Linked DNA regions of Homo sapiens. Changing the gene in region 6 together with the main gene of any one other region gives a genetic interaction. Each region holds a gene or a part of one and is shown on either strand. Other genes may lie near its edges.

Region 1 (3,500 bases), on a different chromosome or scaffold from region 6:
GTAATTTTTCTGCTTCTTGGTGCTAACAATTGTATTAACATTTGGCTTTATATTGTACATGACTTTTCTAACTACTGCCTAAAATATGGTTGATAATTTCTACAGAAAAAGTTGCCCTAGAATGAGTGTATTAAAATTCTCATTCATAAAAAGTATGTCTTAATTGCAATTCTAACAAAGCAGTAATTCTTGATCTCAAATAGTTTATAGAAAAGAAAAATACACACACACACACACACACACAACAAATCCAAGTGTTTATTTTTAAAATTCCAAATAAGGGTACAGAACAAATTTCACTTTTTATTTTCAATATATCATTTTATATTAAATCATTTATTATCTTTGCTACAACCAAATAGATGCTCTACTAATTCTTACTGTACCAAAAATTTAAAAAGTGGAATGCAGACTCCCCCCTTATCTGCAGTTTCACTTTCCAGTTTGTTATCTATGGTCAACTGTGGTCTGAAAATATTAACTGGAAAATTCCAGAAATAATTCATAAGATTTAAATGACATGCTGTTCTAAGTAGTGTGAAGAAATCTTGAGCCATTCTGCTCTGTCCTGCCTAGGGCGTGAATTATCCCTTTGTCCTGCACATGCTGTCTATGTTACCTGCCCCTTAGTCACTTAGGAGCTGTCTGGATTATTAGATTGACTGTGGTGGTGAAGTTCTGCATTAAAGTTGATTATAAGTCGGCTGCAGTGGCTTACGTCTGTAATCCCAGCACTTTGGGAGGCCGAGGCAGGTGGATCACCTGAAGTCAGGAGTTTGAGACCAGCCCGACCAACATGGAGAAACTCCATCTCTACTTAAAATACAAAATTAGCTGGGCGTGGTGGCGCATGCCTGTAATCCCAGCTACTTGGGAGGCTGAGGCAGGAGAATCACTTGAACCCGGGAGGCGGAGGTTGCGGTGAGCCAAGACTGCACCATTGCGCTCCAGCCTGGGCAAAAAGAGCGAAACTCCGTCTCAAAAAAAAAGAAAAAAAAAGTTGATTATACAAGGCAAACCTTCTGTAAAAGGAGTGATGGTAAATATTTTAGGCTCTGAGGGCCATAGGGTTTCCTACCTTTGCAGGCCACAGACAGAACTGAATGAATGGGTGGGTCTGTGTTCCACTGAAACTTTCTTTACAAAAACAGGCTGGGAGGTCCGATTTGGCCCATAGGAAGATAAGCCTGAATGATATCTACAAGCTGTTGTGATGTGAGGCAGGTGTAAAAATACCATTCGAAGGTTCTACTTCCTATTTATCTATATGTAGATTTATCATATTATATAAAGGCATTTACGTACTTATATTGCTTAAAGAATACATTTTCAAGTGACTATGGTAATGAATCATTCAAAGTGTGGTAGGCACTGAACAAAATAAATAACTTGTTTTCTTAGAAGAAATTCATACTTGGATAAAAATATCAAGAAAAAATGTCCCTTTTCTTCTATTACAAATGGGGAACATAAGAGGTTCTAGAAACAGGAGCCCAAGAAACTGAGAGTTTTTTTTTTTTTTTTTTTTTTTTTTGAGACAGAGTCTCACTCTGTTACCCAGGCTGGAGTGCAGTGGCACGATCTCAGCTTACTGCAACCTCTGCCCCCCATGTTCAAGTGATTTTCCCACCTCAGCCTCCCAAGTAGCTGGGACTACAGGGGCCCGCGCCCACACACAACTAATTTTTGTATTTTTAGGAGAGATGGAGTTTCACCATCTTGGCCCAGCTGGTTTTTAGATCCTGACCTCAAGCAATCCACCCGCCTTGGCCTCCCAAAGTGCTGGGATTACAGGCGTCGGCCTACCTCTTCTTTCTAAAATAATTTCACTGTATATATCTTACCACAAGACCACCCACATGGCAGAAACTAGATTTTTCTTCCTCCTCATAAATGTTAATTTTTCATTGGTGTTTTAAAAGGCAAAGAATTCTATTTGTTATCCTCAAAAATTTTAAAGCTGGAAGTCATTTGGTATTAAAAAAGAGGTATATTGGCCGGGCGCAGTGGGTCACGCCTGTAATCCCAACACTTTGGGAGGCCGAGGTGCGTGGATCAGCAGGTCAGGAGATTGAGACCATCCTGGCTAACACAGTGAAACCCCGTCTCTACTAAAAATACAAAAAAATTAGCCAGGTGTGGTGGCATGCGCCTGTAGTCCCAGCTACTCAGGAGGCTGAGGCAGGAGAATGGCGTCAATCTGGCAGGTGGAGCTTGCAGTGAGCCGAAGATCGTGTCACTGCACTCCAGCCTGGGCGACTGAGTCTTGACAGAGTGAGACTCCATCTCAAAAAAACAAAAACAAAACAAAAAAAAATTGGTTGAAGAAGTTTTCTACTTGTAATAAATTCATATACATCTAGTTAGTGTATATCAACTGAGAGCCCCAACCCTTTCTCAGTAAGAGATATATTCATCCTGAAAGACAAAGGCATAACTCAGTGTATCTAGGGTACATTCAGGGAGTAGAAACCAGTGCAATGCAAGTACAATTCTCAGGAAAAGATTTAGAATGGATTTTAAATTGGAAACATCAATTATTCTTTGATTTGAAAGTAGATTGGTATTGGGGAGATGTTGGTCACAGGATACAAAATTTCAGTTACATAGGAGGAGTAAGTTCAAGAGATCTATTGTACAACATCTATTATTTTAGTTAATAACAAATGTATTCTTGAAAATTGCTAAGAGAGTAGACTTTAAGTGTTCTTACCACACAAAATAAGTGGGTAATACATGTTAATTAGCTCCATTTAGCCATTCTACAATGTATACACATTTCAAAACAACATGTTGTACATAATATATATATATATATATATATATATATATGCAATTATTTGCCAATTAAAAAGATAAATAGGCTGGGTGTGGTGGTTCACACCTGTAATCCCAGCACATTGGGAGGTGAATTGCCTGAACCCAGGAGTTCAAGACCGGCCTGGGCAACATGGCAAAATCCTGACTCTACAAAATATACAAAAATTAGCCGGGCACGATGGTGTGTGCCTATAATCCCAGCTACTTGGGAGGAAAGGTGGGAGGATTGCTTGGGCCTTGGAGCTCGAGGCTACAGTGAGACAGTGCCACTGCACACTAGCCTGGGTGACAAAGCAAGACCCTGTCTCAAAAATAAATGAATAAATAAAAAAGGCTGATACAGACTAAAATATTTATTTTTGCATTTCTATTTAGTTTGTATAGTATCAAACAACAAATAATTTCAACTAACAACAAATAATTTACAGTACAGATAATGTGCTGCTTCCTATACGCATGGCTTAATTTTTTAAAGGTTCAGACAATGAGTTATACCTGTTTCTTCCACTTCCTTTAAATGGCAAGGAAGCTGAAAGTAGAACAGAACATTTGTTTTTATTTACCAACAACTACACTTACCTTATAAACAGAACTGCCACCAACTATCCAGACCATGTCTACTTTATTTGCTAATTCTGGTTGTTCAGTAAGTTTTAAGGCATCATCTAGACTTCTGGAAA
Region 2 (3,500 bases), on a different chromosome or scaffold from region 6:
TCCACACATCCCAGAAATGAAAACAGGCCCCGCTGGGAGAACTAGAGGAGGTGGGCCTGGAGCACAGAGTCCAGCACCCAGCCCACAGCTAGGCCACAGCGTCCAGCGTCAGCACAGCCACCACCACCACAGCCCTGGATTCTCTCCTCTACTCTACCCTGTGCCATTCCATGGGGAGCGGAAGACACAGCGGCCAATGCCGGCAACACCGCCGCTCGCAACACAAGGGACCTGGGGGTGGGTGGACAGTGACTGTGGGTGCACCTGCCTTCAGCCCTGTCTCAAAAAGTTTTGTGGTTCACAAAGAGAATCTTCTACGGTAAAAGCATGGAGACCTTATAAAGGGGGCTCGTGTCCTTTCTGGCAGGATCAGTGTCCCCATGCCCCAGAAAACCCAAGTCAAGGAGCCAGAGCAGGTCTCCTGGGTGACAACCCACGATGCCCTCAGCGTTGTGGGCATTAAGGCAATGTCAACACTCCCTGCGCTGCTGGGAGTTCGGACAGAGGTGCCCCTGAACACTGAAGTCATTTTGGTGATGAAATAAAAACTGGCAGGCCGGGCGCGGTGACTCATGCCTGTAATCCCAACACTTTGGGAGGCTGAGGTGGGTGGATCGCCTGAGGACAGGAGTTCGAGACCAGCCTGGCCAACATGGTGAAACCCCGTCTCTACTAAAAATACAAGAAAATTAGCTGGGCGTAGTGGCGGGCGCCTGTAATCCCAGATACCAGGGAGGATGAGGCAGGAGAATCGCTTGAATCCAGGCGGCGGAGGTTGCAGTGAGCTGAGATCATGCCACTGCACTCCAGCCTGGGCAACAAGAGTGAAACTCCGTCTCAAAAAAAAGAAGAAATAAAAACTGGCCATTTCCTGCCACCAGCCTACACATGCCCAGGCACGGTGCAGAAGCCCACAGTAGCCTGGCCATCCACCTGCCGTCCCACCCTCTCTCAGGCACCAGATGTGCCCCTGCTACTCCAGCTCGGAGGAGGGGCTGAGGTGAGGGGCCACCCGGCTCCCAGATGCCAGCCCACCCATGGGAGATGCAGTCTCAGGAGACTTCACTGAGCTCCTACCCTTCCTCTACTCGCAATGGATTCTCTGGCCCTGTGGCCATGACCACATCACATGCAGAGGACACATCTGTAGTTCAACTGACCAAAGTCCTTGTCCTTATGGAGTAGGCAGAAGGGCACTGGGATGGGTGGGAACCAGGCTCTCTCCTGGGGGAGTCAGGGACACGACACAGACGGGATGGCCCTCAGGAAGCCTTGGCCCTCTCGAGGACGGGAGAAGCCGCTGGAGAGACCGTAGGAGAGGAAAGGGTGGGGGGTGGCCCGGCCATGAGGACCCTGAAGGATTTTGGTTTTCAGCCTCAAAGCTGAAAGTGGGAAGCCCCCAAGGAAGAAGGCAAGCCGGGGAGACCCCTGCAACAGACTCGTGTCTGTAGAGTGGTCCTGGACAGAACCCCGGGGAGGACCTGCAGTTTGGAGGGACACACAGGGCACACTCCGGGTGGCACCTGGGCAGGTTGGCCCAGCAAACACAGGTCCAAGTGATCAACGGGACAAGGGGTATGGAGGTCTGGGGTGTCCTGCTGTGAGACAGACCTTGCACAGGAGCTTCAACAAAGGCTCTGGGAGGTCGTGTAGGGAACAACAAACTGGCTGAGCCGTGTCTGTCTCAGCAGCTCATGCTCGTGTTTCTCGTAAGCCCAGTTCTAGTAACTCCCACGAAGAACTCACTCCAGGGCTCCCTGACCCACTGGGACTGACAGACATGTCTCACGTGCCCTGTCGGCATCTCACAGCCTCTCCTCCCTGAGCTCCCGTGTGCTGGGGCAGGCAGGCGCAGAAACACAGGCGGTGACCTTTCCCATCAGGGACCGCAGGGCAGGGGGTTGGGCTGAGAGCCTCTCTACGGCAGCTGCTGCTCCTGCCTGGCAGTGCTTGCTTCCCTCCCTCCGTGCTCACCACAGAGTCTGATTCCAGGTCCAGGCCTGACCTGTGGCAAGGTGGCAGTCACTGGGCTGCTACGAATGGCCCAGGGATGGGCATGCGGCTCACAGCAGCTAAATGAGAGCCAGCCTGGGACCTGCCTTTGTTGGGGACACTGAGCAGGTGGAAAGGAAGCCAAGATGGAAGAAGGCAGAGCAAAGAGCTGGAGAAAAGTCTCTCCAATATCACCTGCATGCCTGGATCCAGCTGTGCCTGAAGGATGTTTAACCTCCTGGGGTTAGAGCTATGTAAGCCTATTGGTGCTTTCTTTCCTGTGTCCACATGGTATGGAATTCTGTCACTTCCAGCTAAAAGTGCACAGGGCACCCCTTCCCCAGTGCGCCCAGCATTGTCGTGGAAAGACTGTCAGCCTAGGAGTCAGGACACCCGGCGTCCAATCCACGGCCTGTCCCAGTGCCGAGTGCCCAAGATGCTCAGCCTGTGGCTAGGCCCACTCTGGCCACTGGACCCAGAGCGCCTGGGCCTCACCCTGCCTCACAGGAGGGAATGCCAGTGAGGAGCTTCTGTGGCAGCCACAACAACAAAACCCTGTAAGAAACGCCTCACTGGCTCATACTCACCATCAAGCCTGAGGTATTTAAAGCCGCGATACGCAAAGTAATCTTCCATGATGGTCATGAGGGAGGTCATTTGGCAGAACAGCAGCACTTTGTGGTTGGTTGCTCGGAGTTTGGGAAGAATTCTATCAAGAAGCTCAAATTTACCCGAGGCTCGGTACAGGTCCAGCCTGGAGTGTGGAGGAGGCAGGAGAGAAGGCGCAGGATGTTAAACCTGGAACCCTGCAGGCAGGTAAGGCAGGAGGTGCATCGCCCGCCTCCAGGCCAGGCGCCGGGTTCAAGGGCACAGACATGCATCCTAAGCAGACGTCACCCACCCAAAGCTTCAGCAAAGCCATTTCCCCCAACTGAAATAAGCCCGGCCACCCTCGCTGGGGAGGCGTATCACCAGGGTGGCACATGTATTTCTCGTCAAACCCAGACACTCATGAAAATGAGAGGAGCTGTGAGTCACATGGCCGGCACAACACGGGGCTGGAACAGGGATGCTCCGGGAAGCCAGACCTTGTCCCCTTGCCCGATAAAGAAGCCCCAGGAGCAAATGCCACACTGGAGACACCCATGCTCTGCTAGACCCAGAAGGAAGGGCCACCTCGGCTTCTCATGTTCTCTCCAGCCAAACCCCAAGTGTTGTAGATGTGGACACTGAGGCTGGCAGGGGGACGACGTGATATGGCTGACCACATGTCCAAGCCAGGCCTCCCAGCCTTGAAGCCAGGTGTACAGGACCCTGTTCCACAACTCAGTATAAAAAAACACATCAAAAAGAATTTGTGATGTTTTCATTAGGCGCCTCTCTTCTTGCAAATGGCTTACTACCCCAGGGGAATTGAATGGAGGCTTTAGCTGGAAGAATGCTTTTAGCAAGGTTCTTTGCAATGGTGAAAATCTAGACACAGCATCCACATCCATTAGGGGCTTAAA
Region 3 (3,500 bases), on a different chromosome or scaffold from region 6:
ACAGAAAGAATAATCAGTCACAAATGGTAAAACTGTTTTAAGGTTTGACATGTTTCCTATCAACAGCTATTCAAAATGTCAACAAATTCATAATTCTAAGTACCTTGTGCTTTGCCATCATAGCTCTTACTCCACTACTTTAAAAAAAAAAAAACATCTAATAAGTAGGGAACTGCTGAGAGATCTAGGTTACATGGTCGTTTGAGAATCTAACTAAACCCTGAGGATCTGAGGTGGAACAGTTTCATTCCAAAAACCTCCCCCTGGTCCATGAAAAAACTGTCTTCTACGAAACTGGTCCCTGGTGCCAAAAAGGTTGGGGACTGCTGTATTAGACTATAAGCTCAAAGAAAGTAGGGACTATAATCTTTCTCACTATTGTATCTCAAGATCATTAGCAGACTTCCTAATAGAAGGCACTTAAGTACTTGATGGAGAGTCAACTAAAAGTATTTATCTAATTATCAACAAAAGCCTACCATCTTTAAAAGTTAAATTCCAACAATTTCATGAGCAAATAAAACTACTACAAAGTAGTTGCAAAGGCTGTATTAGTACTCTAATACATTTCAATGTGCCTTTTAAAACTTGAAACAGAGTTTTAAAAATATAGAAGGTTTTCTGGAAGGCCGAGGTGGGCAGATCACCTGAGGTCAGAAGTTCAAGACCGGCCTGGTCTTGAACAGGACGAAACCCCATCTCTACTAAAAATACAAAAATTAGCTGGGTGGGGTGGCATGCGCCTGTAATCCTGGCTACTTGGGAGGCTGAGGCAGAAGAATCGCTTGAACCCAGGAGGCGGAGGTTGCAGTGAGCCAAGATCGTGCCACTGACTCCAGCCTGGGCAACAGAGTGAGACTGTCTCAAAAAAAAAAAAAAAAAAAAAAAAAATTATAAATTTTCTATTTATAGAATCTTCTATTTTCTATTGCAGAAAATAGAAACAATTTCATTTGTATGTTTTATTCCTTTGTTGAATCATATGAAAATAGCTGGAAGGATTTTCAACAAAATTAGAGGATGTTTGAATTTAAATATAGGCTATATGTCATACGTGAAATTTACTTTGGGAGGGTCTTAAGTGGCACTTCAAAGAGAAGGCAGTCAACTCTCAGAGCAGCTGAAATGGAGGTACAATTAAAGGACAGCATGGCTGGTGATCAAGAGAAATACATTCACCAAGATGTAATAGATACAATGCCAAAAAGAACCCCAAACTGGGAGTTAACAGGGATTTATGTTATTAACAATGGTTAGCAATTGTCCCAAGCAACAATGAGTAGGCCAGCCACAGTTTACCTAAAATAAATAGAGGGCTTTCCCTAATTAACCTTTTTCAGACTCTGACCCAGGTATATTAAGAATTACTGCTCCAGTTAAGAATTACTGCTGAAGTAAGTAACTTTTAATGTTGGGGAGGGCTTTCACATCTTTCAGATATGCTAAAGGAGCAAAAGGTTTAGAATCCACTGATTTTAAAATGTGAAGATGTCTTCAACGTTACTACACTGCAATATAAGTGGCAACTTCATTAAATCTACTGTAAAGCAGTAAAGCATTCTTACCACAGGTGCTGCATTTGGGGCAGGTCGCTGTTCAGGTGCACGCCCTTCTTCTCTGGCTTTTACAGATTGAAGAATTGCAAAAATGTTCTTGGAAAAATTCTAAAATATAAATGGATTTTAATTAAGCCCACTTTAAATATACAATAGTAAATTTAGTTGATAATTTAAGACTAAGTTATCTTACTATCGATTCTTCCCTACTACATATGTCATAAGGTATCATTATTATACACATATGTAAAAACCAACCACTACTAAGATATTGATCCAGAGACTGATTATTGTAAATCCCATGGTATTCATTTCATCATTTTCATTTTACTTAAACTGCTACATTCGGGAGGCCAAGGCAGGCAGATCACGAGGTCAGGAGATGGAGACCACCCTGGCTAACACAGGTGAAACCCCGTCTCTACTAAAAATACAAAAAATTGGCTGGGCGTGGTGGCAGGTGCCTGTAGTCCCAGCTACTCGGGAGGCTGAGGCAGGAATATGGTGTGAACACGGGAGGCGGAGTTTGCAGTGAGCCAAGATCATGCCACTGCACTCCAGCCTGGGCAATAGAACGAGACTCCATCTCAAAAAAAAAAAAGAAAAAAAAAACTGCTACAAATGTATTCATATTCTGCATCTGTTCAAATATATAACCAGAAAGCAAGTTAAAATCTAAATAAGGCCGGGCACGGTGGCTCGTGACTGTAATCCCAGCACTTTGGGAGGCAGAGGCAGGTGGATCATGAGGTCAGGAGATTGAGGCCATTCTGGCTAATACGGTGAAATCCCGTCTCTACCAAAACTACAAAAAATTAGCTGGGCGTGGTGGTGGACACCTATAGTGTCAGCTACTTGGGAGGCTGAGGCAGGAGAATGGCGTGAATCCAGCAGGTGGAGCTTGCAGTGAGCCGTGATAGCGCCACTGCACTCCACCCTGGGAGACAGAGCAAGAATCCGTCTAAAAAAAAAAATCTAAATAAAATATAAATACATTTGTCAAAAGAGGCTTCTAGTTCAGAAAAAAAAATAATCAACTACTACATCCTCCTGTTAAACTCCAGTGCTAATTTCAGATTGCTACATATGAGTTTTGAGATACTATCAGAAGTCAATGTACACTTTTCAAAGATGTGTAAGTTGGAAAGTACAAGTACAAATGCTCTTCAACTCACAATGCAATTACATGCTGATCAAAAGTCAACACAGCTAACTAATCTGACGACTCTTTCCTTCATGAAATATTCTTCCTTCATGCTATGGATTGAATGTCTCCTCTAAAACCCATGTTGAAATTTTATTCCATTCTAATAGTATTAGGAGGTGGAGCCTTTAGGAGGTGATTAGGTAGGTCATAGGGCTCCACCCTTACGAATGGATTAATGTTGTTATTGCAAAAGTGGGCTCGGATTCCCGAAAGAGTAAGTTTGGCCCCATTTCTCTCTGTGTCTCATTTGCTTGCTTGCTTGCTTGCTTGCTTGCTTGCTTGCTTGCTTGCTTCTGCCTTCTGCCATGAAATGACCCTCACCAGATGCCACTGCTATGCTCTTGGATTTCCCAGCCTACAGAAATATGAGAAATAAATTTCTTGTCTTCATAAATTACCCAGTCTGTGATATCCACAGCAGCACAAAACAGACAAAGATACTTGGCCTCTGAGATGCTACTCTCTCTTGGTTTTACCCCTAATGTCTGACAGTTCCTTTGGGGCTCTTCTTATGCTGCCTATCAATCACTTAACATTTGAAGGAATATGTAGTAAGAATCTACTCTAAGCCAAACACCTTGCTTGGCACTTGGGTACAATGATGATCAAAAAAGACATGGTCGCTGCCCTCATGAACCTCAAATACAACATAATTTCTCTTCTTTAAACAAGGCATTCTGTTTCCTTGGCTGGGACCACTCTTCCCACCTTACCCCTCTCACCTCCCTCACTAGTTT
Region 4 (3,500 bases), on a different chromosome or scaffold from region 6:
GTTTTCAACCTACTGCCAGCGGGCATGAAGACAGGGACTAGAGTTCACCCGAAGCTTTAAAACAGTCTTCTTGGCTGGGTGCGGTGGCTCACGCCTGTAATCTCAGCACCTGGGGAGGCCAAGGCGGGTAGAGCACAAGGTCAGGAGTTCAAGACCAGCCTGGCCAGCATGGTGAAATCCCATCTCTACTAAAACTACAAAAAATTAGCCAGGCATGGTGGTGTGCACCTGTAGTCTCAGCTGCTCAGGAGGCTGAGACAGAAGAATCACCTGAACCCAGGAAGCAGAGGTTGCAGTGAGCCAAGATCGCACCACTGCACTCCAGCCTGGGCAACAGAGCAAGACTCTGTCTCAAAACAAAACAAAACAAAACAAAAAAAAAACAGTCTTCTCCAGGCACATGAAATGCCTGTCTCCTCTTTTAAGGGAGATTTTATGAAGTTTCAGAATGAAAAAAGTGATTTAACTTAAATTTAGTCCTGTATCATTACAATATATTATTTTTATAAATAAACAGGCATCATTGGCAATGATGATTGGCAATCTAGTCATCACTGGTCTATGTTGAAAACACTACTAAAACATTTGTGATCTCAAAGCTCAGTTAAGAAAATACTTTGGACATTAAATACATATTGGAGCTTTTCACTCTCCACGACAAATAATACATCATAAACAAGGACAGAAACTACAGAAGCACAGGCCTATCGGGCCTGCCACAGCAAATCGTGCTTGCTACTGGGAGTTTAGGCTGACTGCCCTGCACGCATGCCTCTGTTATTTATTCACAGCTTTCCTCCTAGTGCCCTTGCCACTCAGGGGTCTTGCTGTCACATGGCTTCAGACCTTGGGACACATACTCTTTCCTACCCAACACTCATCTCTCCCTCCCTTCACCTAGCTAGCTCCTACTTTGTTTCCAAGTCTTAGCTTAGCCATCCCTTCCTCTGGGATGGGAGCACACACACCCTGGCCCTGACCACACATCTTCATCCTCACAGCACCCTGGACTTACCCCTCTAGCAGTACTTGGCAAATATATTTTAATGGCTGGTTCAGATATGCCTCCCCCACTGCCTGTGAGCTCCTGAGAGGGACTGTTTTGTTCACAACACCACCAGCAGGGTCTAGTACTGCACCTGGGTTCAGATCAAGCTCTTAATAAATGCTTGCTGACAGATGAATGAATCGTTAGATTTTCTCATATATGTGCCACTGAGCAATCACATGTTGATATACACACACACAAAAATGAGTGAGGTTGTAAAATCACCGTGTTTTTTATCTTCGGAAGAACTCTTTTGCCAGTTTCGGAGCCAGCGTAGGAGTTTGTTGGCACAGCTCTGGTCACCTTGCTGTCCAATTATGGTCTTGAGCGAGGTTGGCTTATATTTATCCACCCAGAGCAAATTTTCCACTTTGTTTTCACTGCTGTCATCAGCCAAATTCCTAGCCTTGCTGTCACCACTTGTCTCCTCAGCCACCTGCTCCTTGAAATCCAGGCTTTTCCAAAACACATCTGTTTCCTTTTTTATTGTCTTTGCCAAACTGTCCCTTTTGGAAGTCGGCCTGCTCTTTTTAGATTCTGATTCCTTTTTAGATGGACTAATTTTTCTTTTTCCTTGGACATTTTTTTGGGGTGTTCTCTCCAGTTTGGACTCTTTCTTCATCTTAAGAAGTGGAAAAATGAGGAAAAAAGAAACCTGATGAAACATACAGAATTTCTATCCTGCTAAACGTACTACAGAGAGCAATCAGAGATATCCAAGTGGGCTACTCAACCTGGGCTGGTCTTTTCACAACAGACTTTCCTGTTTGTGGAAATCACCACCTTCTAAACTATAAAAATTAACAAACACACCAGAAACCACCAAATGCAATTTCTAAAAGTGACAACACGTTGATTTTTAAAAGTAATAAGTACTCCAATTTTAGTTTGAAAAAAACAAGGTACAGTGTTGAGATTTTTGTTTCAAAGTTTCCTAATTAAAAGTTAATGCCTCGACAAAAACTTGTACACAAATGTTCATAACCACATTATAGCTAAAAGATGGAAACAATCCAAATGTCCATCAACTGAAAAAGAAACAAAATAGGATGTGTCCACACAATGAAATATTATTTACCCCTAACAAGGACTGAAGCACTGATACATGCTACAACCCAGGTCAACCTTGAAACCACTATGCTAAGTGGAAGAAGCCAGACACAAAAGGCCATATATTCTAATGTCTCCATACACACGTGAAACGTCCAGCATAGGAAAATCCATAGAGACAGAGCAGAGCAGTGAGTGCCACGGGGTGGATAGAATGAGTGGCTGCTGATAGGTACAGGGTTTCTTTTCAGGGTGAGGAAAATGTTCTGGAATTACACAGTGCTAATGGTTGTATACTCTTGTTAATATACTAAAAACCACTGATTTGTATACTTTATAAGGGTGGATTTTATAGTATGTAATATCTCAGTTTTTAAAAAAATTAGTGCCTCTTTAGCAGTGGATGCTAAAATTAGTGGATGAATGTTTAAGGACAAACAGGATATAAGCATAAGTACCTCCTTCTCCTGCCAAGACAGTTATCGATTACAAAGGAAAAAATAGTCACTTTACTAGTGAAGGAACCCAGCACTAGTTTCAGTGGGATGCTGAATCATCTTAACCAAATAATCAAGATTATCCTCACTAATAATAAGACGTTATTGACATCCTGTATCTATGATAGGATGCACTGAGGACACAAGATCACATCCATGGTGTTCTTAGAAAAAAGGCATAACCTCAACCTAATCATGAGAAAACATCACAGATCCAAACTGAGAGACATTCCACAAAACTGACCAGTACTCATTAAAAGTGTCAAGGTTGTAAGAAGACAAGGAAAGACTGAAGAAATGTCATCGACGGGAGAAGACTAAGAAGACACAACTAAATGCAGTGTGGGACCCTGGAACAGAAGAACTACAGGGAAAAATGTAAGGTTCGAAAAATATGTACAGGTTAGTTAACAATACGGCATCAATGTTAATTTCCTGGTTTTTATAACTATGCTATGGTTATGTAATCGAAATCATTCCCTAGATTTCTCTAACCGGAATAACCTGGATGGACCATCTTGCCATTTGGGTGACAGAGCTGGGGACATTAAAATCTTGGAATGCTGGCAATCCTGTGTCCTGTGTGTAAAAAAAGATGGTCTACAGTGGGAATGAATGAGGCTAACTAGTAGAAACAGAGAGACAGAAACTGAAGGGGTCCTCACAGCTTTGTAGTCTGTGGATCCAATAGTTCCTAGACCAGACCCTCCCTGCCCATAGTTTAGTTATGTGAGCCAACATTTTTCCTTTTGCAAAAGCTAATACAGGCTAGGTGTCTGCACAATTTAAAAAGTCCTAATACAGTTCTAATTGAAAACAAATTTATCATGCTAATACCTATTAAAATATCCTTTAAGGAACTCTTAAACAATAACCTTTGCATAAAGTCAACGTGAGAATATGGC
Region 5 (3,388 bases), on a different chromosome or scaffold from region 6:
CTCCCAGGTCACTTCACACAAACCCCCATCAGCAGAATAATCACCTAAAAACCCTAAAATGTCAAGTCCCTTATCTTTCCCAAGGACCCCTGGGGAACTGAGACTCCCCTCATCCAGCCCTGAAGTTAGGCAGAGCCCCCACCCCAGCACTAATATACGCCCTCTTGGTTTCACATAGGGCCAAGACAGACAGCACCCCACACCAACTACCCAGGCCTGGTTCCCAGCATCCCCTGAGCACACACAAGCCACAAGAACATTGCTGGGGGAGGGGAGACACTCCAAGGACTTCCCTAACACAGCCTCGGGGTGAGCTGGGGGTGCCTTGGCCCTGTCTAGGAAATCCCCACAAAGTCTTGCCTCCCTGACTGACGCTTACCCTGACCCCCAGGGCCTCCCTCACTCTGAGCACAGGCCAAGTTGGTATAAAGAACATAAGCTAAGGCATTAAAAGATGCCAGCCACCTGTCCCGACCCTGTGCTCCTGACCTCACCCTCTGAACTGAGTCACACATTCACTCATGCACTTGACACTTCCTTGGTCCCCAGTATGGGCAAAGGAAAGAGGTACAGATGCCCGGGGCTCACAAAGGTACGTAAACGAGGCCCGGGCTTACGGAGCTCACAGGCTAATGTCAGGAGAATGGGCACAGACCCCTCCCTCCACGCATCCTGGGGGCACTTGAAAATGTGTGGGCTGCTTGGGGTTGTCACCATGACTGGTGGAGGATTAAAGGTATCTAGTATTCTTGGATGCTACAGCTCCTTCAGTGTGTAGGCAAAAGTGCCCCATCCTAAACGAACAGCCAGACCCCTTGCCCTCAGAGCCCCAGTCTGAGGAGGGAGACATAGCCCTGGCCTGAGGGAGCCTCAGTCTGAGCGGGGAGACAGCCCTATCAGGGAGCCCAGGTCGGAGGGGAGAGACACAGCCCTACCCTCAGGGAACCTCAGTCTGAGTGGGGAGACACAACCCTTTCCTCAGGGAGGCCCAGTCTGAAGTGGGAGACTCAATTCCTTCCCCCAGCAAGAAACACTGAGTGAGTGAGAAGCCCAGCCATGCAGACTTCAAAGGGCCGAGGCAAGGCCCCAGCGAGAGCATCTGTGCTTTGTTGACATTGTCCACACCTGGAATCGGCTTTCAGCTTCTCAGCATTACTACCAGAGGTAGTAATAACATCAGGACCAACAGCCACTATGAGCAGAAGGACCACAGGACACAACACACAGCTTGCGTCCACACCACTACACTAAGCCACACCAGCCTACCACTCAGGCAACCAGGGCAACCTCGGAACAGGCCCCGCCAGGCTGGACCAGTGCCTGCAGCCCACCACAGGGGCCTTAAAAGCAGAGAAGGCAGCAGTCACCAGGCAGGCAGCTAGAAACTGAGCAAGCAGCTGGCCCCTCTCAGGCGCTCTCCCGCTCGCTCGCTCGCTCACTCTCTTTCTCTCTCTCTCTCCCCATCTCTGTGTGATGCCCCTCTCTGACTTGCTTGCCCTCTGGGAACCAACCTGCAAGTACGTTCGTTTAACTCAAGCTGCCTCGCCTTGCAACGCGAGTCTGTGTTTTTGCAGGAACATTTACACGTCTGCGGATCTTGTACAAACAAATGCTTTCTCCGCTCTGAGCAAGGCCCACAGGGACTGCAAAAAGGCAAAAGGAAAGACATCTAAGCTAGAGCATCAGCAGAGAGAGAGAAAAAAAATCACCATGCAACACCCCCTAACATGTCCGCAGCTGCACCCCCACCCAGCCGGTCAGCCCCCAGGCCCTGGAAGGATCCGAGCGCTACAGCAAAAGACAGAGAGAGCGGCGGAAAGAGGCAGCACTGGCTAGGACACCTGCCGCAGGAAGAGGCGGGCACAGACGGGCAGAGAGTGCAGGGAGAGGCTGCCATAAGGGGCAATGCTGTGTCTCTGGGAGACAAGGGTGAGTCTCAGGCCACAGGGACCCAACTGCTGTTGCCCCCATCGGAGCACGCCTTGACTCTTCACCTGCTGGGGATGGCAATCAGGGGCCACCTTCTCCCCGTGCAAGGCTCATGTCCAGGCCCTTCCACCAAGGTGGGCTAAAGTAGGGTGTGATGGGAGGCTAAGCCCGGAGGCGGTGTCCCCAGGCCAGGCCGCTGGTGGCCAGAGGGCCCAGGGCAGGGCCCACCACAGCCTCCGACCCAGAGGAAGAGGCTGCCCTGCAAGGAGGCCTCTGTGGGTGCCATGGGTTGGGCCGGAATAGGGGGCTCCCCTCCAGAGGCCCCACCTCCGTGAGGAGCCAGGGCACTTCCACCAGATGAAGGGAGGCCGCCACATGGTGTCTGATCCCACCCAAGCTCCTCCTTCAGCCAAGGAGTCATTCAGCAAGCTGCCTCCAGTCATTCACAGCCCTTCTTGGGCCATGTCTGCCCTCCCCACCACCCTCAGCTTCCAGACGAGTGCAGAAGCCTAGAGCAATGGAAACCAGTTGGGTGAGCAGGCACCTGTGCCAACATGGGCCCGCCACCAGTGCCCAGTGGGTGAGAGAAAATCGGTGCCCAGCCAAGCCAGGGTCCCCTCCCTTAATCCTCCAGGCCAAGTCGGCACCCCCATTCACCCCAACCCTGGACCAGCAATGCCACCACCAAATCTACCCGTTGGTGCCAATTAGTGGAGTGAGAGAGTGAGAGAGAGACACGGGCCAGGAGGATGAGAGCCAGGGAAGGACCAGGGGAGGGAGGCAGGGTTACAGGGAATGGCAGGCGGAGGTTGTACTGGGGGCCAGGGAGGCTCCAGGGCATTAGACAGCAGCGGGCACCAACGTACACGCTCCAGGACTTATACCGGGATTTCTTGCGCTTTCGTTTTTGCCCCTTTCCCTTTCCTCGAACTGATTTTCTGGAAAATAAAAAAACAGAGACAGAGAGAGAGCGGGGGCGGTGGGGGGAGTAAAAGAAGTGGTAAGGTGGGCAGGGATGGGGGAACGACCAAAGCAAAGCCACACAGGGCCGCTTCCCGGAGGAAGTGTCAGGAGGCAGGTGGTCTCTGGGGAGGCATGCGCGGGCGCACACAGGCGTGTCTGGGCAGCAAGCACTCGATGGCTCTTTCTTCTCCTCACGCTGCCCACCATGGGATGGCAAACCCAGCCCCTGACAAGGCTTTGGTGGGAAGCCGAGACTGGGTGGAGGGCACAGGACCCAAAGGTCTCCACACTCACAGTGGCTCCCAGTCCCCGGCAGGGGGCAAAGCCTGAGGGAAGGCTCTTTGCCCAGCAGCCCTGTCCAAGTCTGACCCTGAAGGTCCGGGGGTGATAAAAGGTAGGCCAGACTTTGGGGAGAAGGTCAGAGACCTGCCTGGATGGGGAGCAGGAGTGGGAGGGAGGGCTGTGTATCAGGCCTTGTGCCTTCATTTGCAACTGC
Region 6 (3,500 bases):
GCTGATGTGGATATACTAACATTAGACAAAATAAACAGACTGATGAAAACTGTCAATTTAGCTGGGCATGGTGGTGCACACCTGTAGTACCCACTACTCAGGAGGATCACTTGAGCCCAGAAGGTCAAGGCCAGCCTGGTAAACACAGAGACTGCATCTCTACAAAAACATTTTTAAAAAGTTAGCTGGGTATGATAGTGTACACCTGTAGTCCCAGCTACTTAGGAGGCTGAGATGAGAGGATCACTTGGGCACAGGAGGTCAAGCTATATTAATAAAGGGAAAAAAAATCCACATGATTATCTCAATAGACGGAGAAAACATTTGACAAAATCCAATACTCTTTCACCATAAAAACAAAAACCCCACAGCTAACATCATACTTAATGCTGAAAGACTCGAAACTTAACCCTAAGATCAAGAACAAGACAAAGACTCTATTTCTGTTCAACATAATGTTGGAAGTCCTAGCCAGGACAACTAAACAAAAAGAATTAAAAGGCATCTGGGTTAAAAAAAAAAAAAAAAGTAAAACAATTTCCTGTATCTCTATTGATAAACAATGTAATTTTTTTTTTTTTGAGACGGAGTCTTGATCTGTCGCCCAGGCTGGAGTGCAGTGGCGTCATCTCGGCTCACTGCAACCTCCGCCTCCCAGGTTCAAGTGATTCTCCGGCCTCAGCCTCCCGAGTAGCTGGGATTACCGGTGCCCGCAACCACGCCCAGCTAATTTTTTGTATTTTTAGTAGAGACGGGGTTTCACTATGTGGGCCAGGCAGGTCTCAAACGCTTGACCTCATGATCCACCCGCAACGGCCTCCCAAAGTGCTGGGATTACAGGCGTGAGCCACCACGCCCTGCCAAATAATGTAATCTTAATATATTAAAAAACCTAAAGAATTTGTCAAAAAAACTACTGGAGTTAATGAATTCAGCAAATTTTCAGGATACAAGATCAATATACAAAATTCATTTGCATATAGCAATGAACAATTTGAAAATAAAATTTTAAAAAATTCCATTTACATCAGCATCAGGATAAAAAAAAAAAGAATAAACAGGATTACATTTAACCTAGGAAGTGCAAGACTTGAACACTGAAAACTACAAAATATTCTTGAAAGAAATTAAAGACCCTAAAAAAATGGGAAAAAAAAGGCCCCATGTTATTGGATTAGAAGAGTTACTATTAGAGGTTTAGCATCCTTAATCTCAAATCTGAAATCCAAAATGTTCCAAACTCCAAAACTTTTCAGGTGCTGACATCATGTGACAAACTGAAAATTTCATACCTGACAGGTTTGCTTTCTGATAGTTCAATGTACAAACTTTGTTTCATGCACAAAATTATTTAAAACATTGTATAAAATTACCTTCAGGCTATCTGTATCAGGTATATATGAAGCATAAATAAAATTATTCATGTTTCAACTTGAGTCCCATCTGTAAGTTATCTCAATATGCATATGCAAATATTCCAAAATCCAAACAAATGTAAAATCCACAAAACTTTTGGTCCCAAGCACCTTGAATAAAGAATACTCAATATATACTAAAATGGAAATACTCCCCAATGTAATCTCTTTTAAAATTCCAAATTTTTTTCTTGCAGAAATAAGATAATCCTAAAAGACAGAAAAACAAGGGGCCACAAATAACCAAAATACCTTGAAAAAAAGAACAAACTTGGACAACTCATATTTTCTAATGTCAAAATTCACTATAAAGCTACAGTAATCAACATAGTGTGGTAACGGCATAGCACAGACATATAGATCCATGAAATAAAAGAATTGAGTCCACAGGGGAAGAAAAAAAAAAGGAAAAAAAAAGAATTGAGATTCCAGAAATAAACCCATACATCTATGACCTATTTATTTTCAACAAAGGTGCCAAGACCATCTAATAGTAAAACATATCTTCAACAAATGGTGCTGGAATCTGAATATTCACATACAAACATTTGAATTTGCACCCTACATCATACTATATACAAATATTAACTCAAAATGGACAAAGACCTAAATATAAGAGCTAAACTTTAAGACTGTAGTCCCCGCTACTTAGGAGGCTGGGACTCCTAAAAGAAAGCATAAAGTATAAATCTTTACAATCTTACATCAGGCAACAGTTTCTTAAATTTGACACTAAAAGCATAGGCAACAAAAGAGAAATTATAGATCCACTGGAATTCATCAAAATCTAAAACTTGAGTACATCAAACGACACTAACAAGAAAACAAAAGAATGGGGGAATTTTCTCCCACAGAATGGGATAAAATATTTGCAAATCAGGTACCTGACAAGGTTCTAGTGTCCAGAATGTAAAAGAACTCTAACAACTCAACAATAAAAACAAGCCAGTTAAAGCATGGACAAAATATCCGGATACTGTTATAAAGAAATGGCCAATAAGCATATAAGAATATGCTCAAGATCATTAGTCTTTAGAGAGATGAAAATCAAAAGCAAAATGAGATAAGACTTCATACACACTAGGATGGCCATAGCAAAAAGGGGAGGCAGTAAGTGTTGGCAAGGTTGTAGAGAAATTGGAACCCTCTTACATTACTGATGGGAACGTAAAATGGTACAGGTGCTTTGGAAAAATCATTTCACAGTTTCTCAAAAAGTTAAATGAAGAGTTACCATATGCTCCAACAATTCTATTCCTCCATATATATCTAAGAAATTGAAAACATATGGTCACACAAAAACTGGTACAAGATTGTTCACAGCAGTATTATTCATAATGATGAAAAAGTAGAAACAACCCAAATGTCCATGAGTGGATGAATGGATAAACGAAATGTAATACATACACACAACAGAATATTATTCAGCCATAAAAAGGAATAAAGTACTGATAGATGCTATGAACCTTGAAAACGTGCTAAATGAAAGCAGACAGACCCAAAGGACTACATGTTATATGATTCCATTTATATAAAATGTCCAAAAAGGCAATCCCTAAAGACAGAAAGTAGATTCGAGGTTGTCTGGGAATGGAGCAAGAAAGGAATAAAGAGTGATTCTAGGTGGTACAGAGGTGTTTTGTTTTTTTTTCCCCGTGGTGATGCAATGTTCTGGAATTAGGGGCGATGGTTGCACAACCTTGTGAATATACTAAAAAGCACTGCATTTTACATTTTAAAATGGTTAAAGTGATGATTCTTATGTTATGCAAATTTTATCTCTGAGTCTACCTGAAAGAAAGTGAATCACCTATGTGAGTGAGAAGACTATCAGGCTGACCTCAGATTTCTACACAGTAACAGTTCCCCCAATTTTTAATTTTGAAAACTCGAATCTACAGAAAAACTGAAAAAAGAGTATAATAAATAACCATATACTCTTCATTGGCCTTATCTACCAGATATGTGTGTGTTTATTGGCCTTTATGTAGTTGTTTGCCCTTTATTTTTTTAAATTTTAAGCTGAATGAAAATATCACTTCACTTCAACTTTGCTTTGACACTTGTTCTCCTTTGAACAAGGGC
Region 7 (3,500 bases), on a different chromosome or scaffold from region 6:
AATACAAAAATTATTTGGGCATGGTGGTGCGTGCCTGTAATCCCAGCTCCTCGGGAGGCTGAGGCAGGAGAATTGCCTGAACCTAGCAGGCGGAGGTTGCAGTGAGCCGAGATCTCACTACTACTGCATACTGCATGCCAGCCTGGGCGACAGAGCGAAACTCTGCCTCAAAAAAAAAAAAAAAAAAAGAATGAAGTACTAATATATGGGCTGCCACATGGGTTACCCTTGAAAATGTGTTAAGTAAAGAAGTCAGCTCCAAAAGACCACATATTATATGATTTAATTTATAGGAAATGCCCCTAGATTTTTTAGTGGTCACCCAGTGGAGAGGAGTTGGTGGCAAATGGCAAATGATTGTTAATGAGTTCAGTTTTCTTGGGGGGCAATAAATTGTATTAAAACTGTTTGTCTATACTAAAACCACTGAATGGCATACTTTATTTTTATTTTTGAGTTGGAGTCTTGCTCTGTCACCCAGGCTGGAGTGCAATGGCACAGTCTTGGCTCTCTGCAACCTCTGCCTCCTGGGTTCAAGCGACACTCGTGCCTCAGCCTCTCGAGTAGCTGGGACTACAGGCACGCACCACCACACTCAACTAATTTTTGTATTTTTAGTAGAGATGGGGTTTCACCATGTTGGCCAGGGTGGTCTTGAACTCCTGACCTCAAGTGATCCGCCAGCCTCAGCCTCCCAAAGTGCTGGGATTACAGGCATAAGCCATGGCGCCCAGCCAAATGGTATACGTTAAATGGGCAAATTTGGCATGTGAATATCTCAATAAAGATGTTTCAAAAAAAGTAGACAGTAAAGGCATTATCAAATGATTAACAGAATTATTAATTCTATTTAGTTCATTGAGTGGACATTATTTATATCCGAAGCATGATGTTGAACTCTAGAGATACTACAAACATTACTAATATGTAGTCACTTTTCTTAAGAAACTTTGTATACTAGAACCTCGTAAGTGGCTAGAAAATGAAATCTAATAAACTGGGTATTTTCTTAGATCCCAATTAAGGAATTCAAATTAACAAACTACTTCATTACAAAATATTTTCTATAATGAATCAAATCCCAAGGACGATATTAAAGAGGTCCAGGCCAGGGGCAGTGGCTCACGCCTGTAATCCCAGCACTTTGGGAGGCCAAGGCGGGCAAATCACAAGGTCAGGAGTTTGAGACCAGCCTGACTAACATGGTGAAACCCCGTCTCTACTAAAAATACAAAAAGCAGCCAGGCGTGGTGGCATGCACCTATAATCCCAGCTACTCAGGAAGCTGAGGCAGGAGAATCGCTTGAACCCAGGAGGTGAAGATTGCAGTGAGCCGAGATTGTGCTATTGCACTCCAGCCTGGGCAACAAGAGTGAAACTGTCTCAAAAAAAAAAAAAAAAAAAAAAAGAGGTCCAAGTAGAATTGAGATACAGTCCTCTTTCACGTTTCTCAATTCAACAAAAAGGTTTTGAACATCTATGTGGAATGTACTAGGTAACAAACACAATTTAATCTTCACTTTATACCATTTTTCTAAAAATGTTGTAATACCTGGTTCTCTTTTCTGTTTCTTTTCTAATCTTTGTTTTAGGCCTTCTAGTTCCACACCATCTTCTTGAGGGCTTCCTTCAGTATTTTCATTCTAAAAGATAGCAAAGTTAGGGTTGGATATAGAATAAATTCTGAACTATGGGATTAGAGATTTTATACATTTTTGGCTGGGAGCGGTGGCTCACGCCTGTAATCCCAGCACTTTGGGAGGCCGTGGTGGGCAGATCTCTTGAGGTCAGGAGTTCGAGACCAGCCTGGCCAAGATGGTGAAACCCCATCTCTACTAAAAATACAAAAATTAGCTGGGTGTGGTGATGTGCCCCCAACTACTTGGGAGGCTGAGGCACGAGAATCGCTTGAATACGGGAGGCGGAGGTTGCTGTGAGCTGAGATCCTGCCATTGCACTCCAGCCTGGGTAACACAGCGAGACTCCATCTCAACAACAACAACAAAAAAATTTTATACATTTTTTTTTCAATTTTAAGTGGACATATGCATCAATATTTTATGCATAATATTTTTAAGAGTATTACCTCTTTTTTTTTTTTGAGATGGAGTTTTGCTCTGTTGGCCAGGCTGGAGTGCAGTGGTGTGACCTTGGCTCACTGCAACCTCTGCCTCCCGGGTTCAAGCGATTCTTCTGCCTCAGTCTCCCGAGTAGCTGGGATTACAGGCGCCTGCCACCATGCCCGCCTAATTTTTTTAATTTTTAGTAGAGACAGGGTTTCAACCATGTTGGGAGGCTGGTCTTGAACCACTGACCTCAAGTGATCCACCCACCTTGGCCCCCAAAGTGCTGGGATTATAGGTGTGAGCCACCACAAGAGTATTACCTTAATTTTCTTTTTATTTTTCTTTTCTGCCTCTGCTTTCATTTCTATGGTTATTCGTGGAATGACTCTTTGACCACGCGGAGAAGGCAAAACTTCAGCCATTTGTGTTTTTTTCCCCTTGGCCTTCCCCCCTTTCCCAGGAAGTCCGACTTGTTCATCTTGTTTTTCCTTGGCTTCAACAGCCTACAGAAGGGATATAAGAAAGCAAGTTTAAATGTTAACAAAAACATTACAATATCTAAACACCCAACAGTTAAACTGATTTCATTTTGTTACATCTTAAAAACTAGTGATAAATTGCTCCATAACCTAGTATACTATCAACAATAGTGAAGATGTAATTAAAACACACCTTGAAAAGGAAGGTGTGGAGACAGAAGGACTGGGTTTTATTCCTGATTCTACCACTTAACCTTTTTGAGGAAAACAAGGGAGAAACTAAAAATAAAACATGTATATACATATATATTTGTAAACTCACATACAAAATATGAAAGGAAGTGATGCACACTTATCCAACCAACTGATTACAATGAGCTAGGCATCTATACTGAAGTGCAGTAATACAAATTTGCATGTTAAATTTAAGAAATAAAGCTTTTGGTGGTTTTTTTTTTGTTTTTTTTTTTTTAAGAGACACGCAGGCTGAGTACAATGGTACATGATCATAGTTCACTGCAGCCTTGAACTCCTGGTCTCAAGTGATCCTCCCACCTTGGCCTCCGGAGTAGCTGAGACTATAGGCCCACACCACCATGCCTGGCTATTTAAAAAAAACATTTTGTAGAGATGAGGTCTTGCTACGTTACCCAAGCTGGTTTTGAACTCCTAATCTCAAGTGATCCTCCTGCCTCAGCCTCCCAAAGCACATTGGGATTACAGGTGTGAGCCACAGTGCTGGCCTTTTTTCTTATGTTAAAATAATGTTGAGAAACAAATGTTATTAGGAAGATTTAAGTAACAAATAACCTTCTGAAACCATCTGGATAGCCCTGCTTTCTCCTTTTTTTTTTTTTTTTTTTAGATGGAGTCTTGCTCTGTCACCCAGGCTGGAGTACAGTGGCGCAATCTCGGCTCACTGCAACTTCTGCCTTCTGGGTTCAAGCAATTTTCT

Evidence for each region.
Region 1: changes in CHEK1 (region 6) and DHFR are lethal when combined (synthetic lethality), as found in Homo sapiens cells (one large-scale study listed by BioGRID).
Region 2: changes in CHEK1 (region 6) and SMARCA4 together harm fitness more than expected from each alone (negative genetic interaction), as found in Homo sapiens cells (one large-scale study listed by BioGRID).
Region 3: changes in CHEK1 (region 6) and CDC73 are lethal when combined (synthetic lethality), as found in Homo sapiens cells (one large-scale study listed by BioGRID).
Region 4: changes in CHEK1 (region 6) and RFC1 are lethal when combined (synthetic lethality), as found in Homo sapiens cells (one large-scale study listed by BioGRID).
Region 5: changes in CHEK1 (region 6) and VEGFA together harm fitness more than expected from each alone (negative genetic interaction), as found in Homo sapiens cells (one large-scale study listed by BioGRID).
Region 7: changes in CHEK1 (region 6) and TOP2A are lethal when combined (synthetic lethality), as found in Homo sapiens cells (one large-scale study listed by BioGRID).

What each region holds. Positions count from the first base shown.
Region 1 is NC_000005.10:80,634,484-80,637,983, forward strand, and holds part of DHFR (dihydrofolate reductase), read right to left. Parts: coding exon 3,400-3,500; intron 1-3,399.
Region 2 is NC_000019.10:11,027,030-11,030,529, reverse strand, and holds part of SMARCA4 (SWI/SNF-related matrix-associated actin-dependent regulator of chromatin subfamily A member 4), read right to left. Parts: intron 2,747-3,500; coding exon 2,580-2,746; intron 1-2,579. UniProt on the Homo sapiens protein: ATPase involved in transcriptional activation and repression of select genes by chromatin remodeling (alteration of DNA-nucleosome topology).
Region 3 is NC_000001.11:193,146,031-193,149,530, reverse strand, and holds part of CDC73 (parafibromin), read right to left. Parts: intron 1,665-3,500; coding exon 1,566-1,664; intron 1-1,565.
Region 4 is NC_000004.12:39,307,363-39,310,862, forward strand, and holds part of RFC1 (replication factor C subunit 1), read right to left. Parts: intron 1,671-3,500; coding exon 1,274-1,670; intron 1-1,273. UniProt on the Homo sapiens protein: Subunit of the replication factor C (RFC) complex which acts during elongation of primed DNA templates by DNA polymerases delta and epsilon, and is necessary for ATP-dependent loading of proliferating cell nuclear antigen (PCNA) onto primed DNA.
Region 5 is NC_000006.12:43,780,211-43,783,598, reverse strand, and holds part of VEGFA (vascular endothelial growth factor A, long form), read right to left. Parts: intron 2,868-3,388; coding exon 2,796-2,867; coding exon of another isoform or gene 2,745-2,795; intron 1,644-2,744; coding exon 1,512-1,643; intron 1-1,511.
Region 6 is NC_000011.10:125,645,663-125,649,162, reverse strand, and holds part of CHEK1 (serine/threonine-protein kinase Chk1), read right to left. Parts: intron 1-3,500. UniProt on the Homo sapiens protein: Serine/threonine-protein kinase which is required for checkpoint-mediated cell cycle arrest and activation of DNA repair in response to the presence of DNA damage or unreplicated DNA.
Region 7 is NC_000017.11:40,393,897-40,397,396, forward strand, and holds part of TOP2A (DNA topoisomerase 2-alpha), read right to left. Parts: intron 2,570-3,500; coding exon 2,387-2,569; intron 1,644-2,386; coding exon 1,553-1,643; intron 1-1,552. UniProt on the Homo sapiens protein: Key decatenating enzyme that alters DNA topology by binding to two double-stranded DNA molecules, generating a double-stranded break in one of the strands, passing the intact strand through the broken strand, and religating the broken strand.